Linked DNA regions of Homo sapiens: region 2 is linked to region 1. The links come from fine-mapping of genetic effects on gene expression. A gene starts in region 1. The other region holds a variant in brackets. All regions are shown on one strand. Distances are from middle to middle. Region 1 holds the start of LYRM4-AS1 (LYRM4 antisense RNA 1). Region 2 overlaps LYRM4-AS1 (LYRM4 antisense RNA 1).

Region 1 (2,904 bases):
CCTATTGGAATGTGTAATACAAACAAGGTCTTACTTCCATGAAGATGAACACCCAGGTTTTTAGGAATGAAACAAAATCATGAAAGTTGTTATTTCTCCACGAGTTTCACTGGAACATAAAAACACGGGCAACAAAACTCTTATGTTAACTTACCTATCTCAGGCAAAGAGAAATCTGACTACTTAAGTTTTTCATTTCTGCATTCAAACGTACAGTACAGGAAGGGGATTGAACAGAATACTTTTAATGGAAAACTCGTGCTTGCATTTAATCTTTTGCAAATTAGCAATGCTGTATATTTTATGTCCTGTTCCTTTCACTATTTTATTTTCAAGGAAATATAGTATAATTGAATATCCCTTGATTTGTTTACCCTGGTGTTATCCTGGAATGAAACAAACTATCTGTCGGGGCATAAGGAATTAATTTATGGACATCCAATTACTAAGAATCTATGTGCAAGCAATGGTGCTCCTGTATGTTTTCATTTTCGAGACAGAAAAATGCAACAGGCGAGTTAAAGTATACATCCCTGACTGCTGTGATGAGCTTGACATCCAAAATAGGTGTTAAAAACAGGGCAGGCTTCAAATGTTGCCACATTGTAAAAGTCATCACTGTCCCAAGGCTCAAACACCAGCCTGTTCTGACTGATCAGGTCACCACTTAACATCTCTGAAACACTGCTCAGTCAAACCTGAGTTATTAAGCTGATCCATTTAAAGTGTAAAATGTTTAATCCCCCATGATAAGGTTAGTTTCTTGAAGTCTCTCAGATATCAAATTAGTTCCAACAACCAATTTAGAAAATCAGTCGCTTCGGCCGGGCGCGGTGGCTCACGCCTGTAATCCCAGCACTTTGGGAGGCCGAGACGGGCGGATCACGAGGTCAGGAGATCGAGACCATCCTGGCTAACACGGTGAAACCTCGTCTCTACTAAAAATACAAAAATTAGCCGGGCGTGGTGGCGCGCGCCTGTAGACCCAGCTACACGGGAGGCTGAGGCAGGAGAATGGCGTGAACCCGGGAGGCGGAGCCTGCAGTGAGCCGAGATCGCGCCACTGCACTCCAGCCTGGGCGACAGAGCGAAACTCCGTCTAAAAAAAAAAAAAAAAAAAAAAGGAAAATCAGTCGCTTCCTGGGCCGAGCCTAGGCAGGATGCTCTGGTGAGATCCACAGGTACGCAGGTGGGAGAGGGATTCAAGCTGGGGAGGAGGCAGTGGTGGGGAGGAGGCGCGAGACCCGCCCTGATTTGGGGAAAAAGCGAGGTGCACGTGGCTGCCCCACAGCCTAACTCCCTGGTCCCGGCCCTGAACCTCGAATCCCTCCCTGGACTCACTCCCAGTTCGGCGGGTTGACACGAGTGAGCAGCCAGAACGCCCCTGACAACAGCTCCCTCCAGACTGGGTACCGCCCCCACGCCCGGCGCATCCTGGGAGTTGTAGTCCTGTAGCCCTGCAAGCCACTGGCTTAGAGCAGTTAAGAGACTACAACTCCCAGCAAGCCGGGCGAGGGCCCCGCCCCTCCGCGTACCGCCGGCGGCCCCGCCCCGCGAAGCCTAGCACTCTCCCCAAACCTCTCTCGCACGCGGGGACTGAGCACGGCCCGAAAAGCCGAGGACAGCCGGACTCACCCTGTAGTTATAGTAGTGCGTCTGCACAAGATGCCGGTGGCGCGACTTGTGGTTGCCGAAGTTGGATTTCTCGCAAACCAGTAAGTGCCGCGGCGCCTCCCGAAGCCGGCGCAGCGTGGCCATGCTCTCCTGGGTTCCTGGTCCTCCCGGCCTCCGCTGGCGGGGCACGCCCCGCCCCTTCCTCCCGCCCCGCCCCTTCCCTCCGGCCGCATACCCGCTGCTGTGCGCCCCTGGCGGCGGTGGAGTGGGGATGGCGGCGCTGGATTTCTGAGCAGTTCTTAGACTTCTTAGGAGCCCACGCAGCCGCTCTTTGGTGGATGTCTGAAGCTGTAAATTCACTGTCCCAGTGGCTGGGAACCTGGCTCTTGCCTTTTCAACGCCACTTTTCCTCCGTCCCCGCCATCCCTTGGAATTGCCCTAAACCCTCTCTGTGGGCCCCGCCTCGGAGCGCCCCTTGGACCCCAGCCTGGCGCCGGCGCATACCTCGGTCAGGCCCCTCAGAGGGACCGCTTCCTGCCACCGTTATAAAAGGAAAACATCGCATGGAAAGGCCCAGTTCCTTTAGTATATGGTCAAGAAATGTAGCCGCACAGTTAAGTAACCCCCTAAGCTGCTTTGGGGGCCACACCCAGCTGCTTTCTGACTTCTCACACTGTTTGGTTCACAGGACTCTGTTACCCATTGGGGACCTCTTGGCCATTATTAACACAGGCCAACAGGACTAAAAGTTTGTATCAGTCCTTCCCAAAACATTAGGGAAGGTTGTGCGGGAAGGTAAAGCACAATTTTTGCCTTACAATAGGACTCCTTTGAAACTACTATTGAGTTCCCTTTTAAATAGCCCTTCAGAACCGCTTTTAATAATGTGTTGTTTCTGGGGGTTAATAGTGATAATTCTCCTAAGTCATTTTTCCATTTCGTTTTTCTGTCACGGGCTTGGAGCGGTTAAGAGACTGCGGCTCCCAGCATGCGGTACGTTACTGATCAGGGCAAAATCAAGTATGTTACTACATGCTTCTCAAACTAGAGAGGCACAGCCCCAATTCTGCACTGGCAGGATACAAAACAGCAGAATATTGGTGATACATCTTCCTGGAACATCAGTTTTTCTATGAGATGTGGAAGAAATGGAATTAAGTAGTTTACAAGGTAAATAATTAAGAATTTAAAACTAAGCCAGTCACAGTGGGTCATGCCTGTAATCCCAGCACTTTGGGAGGCTGAGGTGGGAGGATCACTTGAGCTTAGGAGTTCAAGACCAGCCTGGGC
Region 2 (2,904 bases), 33 kb after region 1:
GTGCTTCCCACTACCCTTACCCTGGGGGGTCCAGTCCCATTGAACTCTCTGTAGTTGCCTGAAGATGCTTTTCCTGAGGTGCCCTCTCCTCTCCATCTAGTCACCCAGATCCATCCTTTAAGCCTCAGCCCCAGTGATGCCCAGGAAGTCTCTCTGGACCCTCCCCTAGGGCAGCTGAAAATCTTTTCTTCAGTGCCAGGTGACATGCCCTGCACACACCTCTGGCTCAGCGTGCATCGCAGCAGCGGGATCCGTCACACTCTCCTCCACCTCCCCCACCAGCTGCTTCAAGGCAAGGCTCTTTCTCCTTCCTTCCTTCCTTCCCTCCCTCCTTCCCCTCCCCTCCCCTCCTTTCCCTCCCTCCCCTCCCTTCCCCTCCTCCCCTCCCTCCCTCCCCTCCCCTCCCCTCCTTCCTTCCTTCCCTCCCTCCCTCCCCTCCCTTCCCCTCCTCCCCTCCCTCCCTCCCTCCCCTCCCCTCCCCTCTTTCCCTCCCTCCCTCCCCTCCCCTCCCCTCTTTCCCTCCCTCCCTCCCCTCCCCCCCTTCCCTTCCTTCCTTCCTTCCCCCCCCCACATATGTATGTATGTATATTAGTATATGTGTATGCATATAGACATATTTGGGGAGGTGGTGAAAAACAATACTTCAAGATATTTCTTATGTTGCACTTTTATTTCTAAATTAACCTACAGTATCATGCCTATTTAATTGATTTGATGTTGTGTTCTGGAATTTAGCACAGAGCCTGGCCCAAAGAAAGGACAATAAATATTTGCTGATAAAAAGCAAAAAGCTTAACAATTCTATTCATTTTACCTAACTGAAGTTCCTTGTGTCATGAATTTTTAATAAATAGTTTAAAATTAACATGTTAAGAGCATGTTCCCTTAAATATTTTAAGTAATTCCTCTGCCCCCTCTCTTTTTAATTTGAGCTATATCTATAATAAAATTTTGTTGAGCAAAATAAACTCCAGCTTAATCCAAATTGAATAATTAAAAATGTGGAAGAAGTGGTCTGAATTAATGAGTTTTCTCAGTGTAATTCCAGAATATTGAGCCAGAGGAGATCTTAATTTACACGTGTGTTAATTAGGCTCTTCCAGGTTAGCCTAGGAGATAGGAGGGAAAAAACAGAGAGCGCCTCAGCAGGCTGCTGAGGCCTGAAAGGAAGGTTATTCACAGGCAACCTGGGCGTGGTTTCAACAGCAGCTCTGAGATGCAACACCAGCTGCCTCCGCTGAGCTGGCAT[G/C]TGCTGCTCCAGGAGCTGGGGCTGCTGTCATAGAGCCCTGGCCACCTCAGCCCCTGCTTGGCCATGGTTTGTCCTGACTCGTTACTTCTACCACTGCTTTCTCTGCCTGCCGTCTCCTTCTGTCCAGACTAGCGAGTGCTGATGGTCTCTACAGTTTCAAATTCAAATCCCTCTGCAAAGAAAGCATCCGATTGCTTCAGATAGTCACTCTCCTTCCTGCTGGACTGAGATCTTGCATCAATTTCTCTCCTGAGATAAAGGCCTCCCTCTAAATGAGCTTCCCTTCAGCCCAACATCTTCTCCTTGGGCCCGGACAGTGAGAAGACACAGTCCACTTTCTCAGGAGACCTGCGGGCACGGGATACGCTCAAGTTATACCACTGGGAGCTCCTTTCTGAGTCAACAGAAGCAGAAACTGATGCCTGAGAAGTTAGGAGGTCCTTCCTAGGAGGGTGCCCTTCAAAGTCCCCTGTTATCTAGGTCTCTGAAGCACATCACTGCCCCAGTATTGAGAAGTCTTGTCTCTTTAGCTTGTATTTTTTTTTTTTTTTTTTTATTGATCATTCTTGGGTGTTTCTCGCAGAGGGGGATTTGGCAGGGTCATAGGACAATAGTGGAGGGAAGGTCAGCAGATAAACAAGTGAACAAAGGTCTCTGGTTTTCCTAGGCAGAGGACCCTGCGGCCTTCCGCAGTGTTTGTGTCCCTGGGTACTTGAGATTAGGGAGTGGCGATGACTCTTAACGAGCATGCTGCCTTCAAGCATCTGTTTAACAAAGCACATCTTGCACCGCCCTTAATCCATTTAACCCTGAGTGGACACAGCACATGTTTCAGAGAGCACAGGGTTGGGGATAAGGTCACAGATCAACAGGATCCCAAGGCAGAAGAATTTTTCTTAGTACAGAACAAAATGAAAAGTCTCCCATGTCTACTTCTATCCACACAGACCCGGCAACCATCCGATTTCTCAATTTTTTCCCCACCCTTCCCGCCTTTCTATTCCACAAAACCGCCATTGTCATCATGGCCCATCCCCAATGAGCCGCTGGGCACACCTCCCAGACGGGGTCCTGGCCGGGCAGAGGGGCTCCTCACTTCCCAGTAGGGGCGGCCGGGCAGAGGCGCCCCTCACCTCCCGGACGGGGCGGCTGGCCGGGCGGGGGGCTGATCCCCCCACCTCCCTCCCGGACGGGGCGGCCGGCCGGGCAGGGGGCTGACCCCCCCACCTCCCTCCCGGACGGGGCGGCTGGCCGGGCAGAGGGGCTCCTCACTTCCCAGTAGGGGCGGCCGGGCAGAGGCGCCCCTCACCTCCCGGACGGGGCGGCTGGCCGGGCAGGGGGCTGACCCCCCCTCCCCCCTCCCGGACGGGGCGGCTGGCCGGGCAGAGGGGCTCCTCACTTCCCAGTAGGGGCGGCCGGGCAAAGGCGCCCCTCACCTCCCGGACGGGGCCGCTGGCCGGGCGGGGGGCTGACCGCCCCCCACCTCCCTCCCGGACGGGGTGGCTGCCGGGCGGAGACGCTCCTCACTTCCCAGACGGGGTGGCTGCCGGACGGAGGGGCTCCTCACTTCTCAGACGGGGCGGTTGCCAGGCAGAGGGTTTCCTCACTTCTCAGACGGGGCGGCCGGGCAGAGACGCTCCTCACCTCCCAGACAG

What was found.
Region 2: its variant is fine-mapped to the expression of LYRM4-AS1 in whole blood (TOPMed, PIP above 0.99).

What each region holds. Positions count from the first base shown.
Region 1 is chr6:5,002,245-5,005,148 of GRCh38, forward strand. It overlaps LYRM4-AS1 (LYRM4 antisense RNA 1), which reads left to right and starts at 1,572. Exons shown (of 4, transcript NR_126015.1): 1 at 1,572-1,715. RPP40 (ribonuclease P/MRP subunit p40) reads right to left here and starts at 1,793. Exons shown (of 8, transcript NM_006638.4): 1 at 1,636-1,793; 2 at 1. The coding sequence starts at 1,758. RefSeq lists silencers at 1,394-1,643, 1,774-1,903.
Region 2 is chr6:5,035,225-5,038,128 of GRCh38, forward strand. The region is part of intron 2 of LYRM4-AS1 (LYRM4 antisense RNA 1); the gene reads left to right. It also overlaps a transcript of LYRM4 not described here. Among named protein-coding and RNA genes, the nearest start is that of RPP40, 33 kb to the left of the region's middle. The variant G/C (reference allele first, on the strand shown) is at 1,250.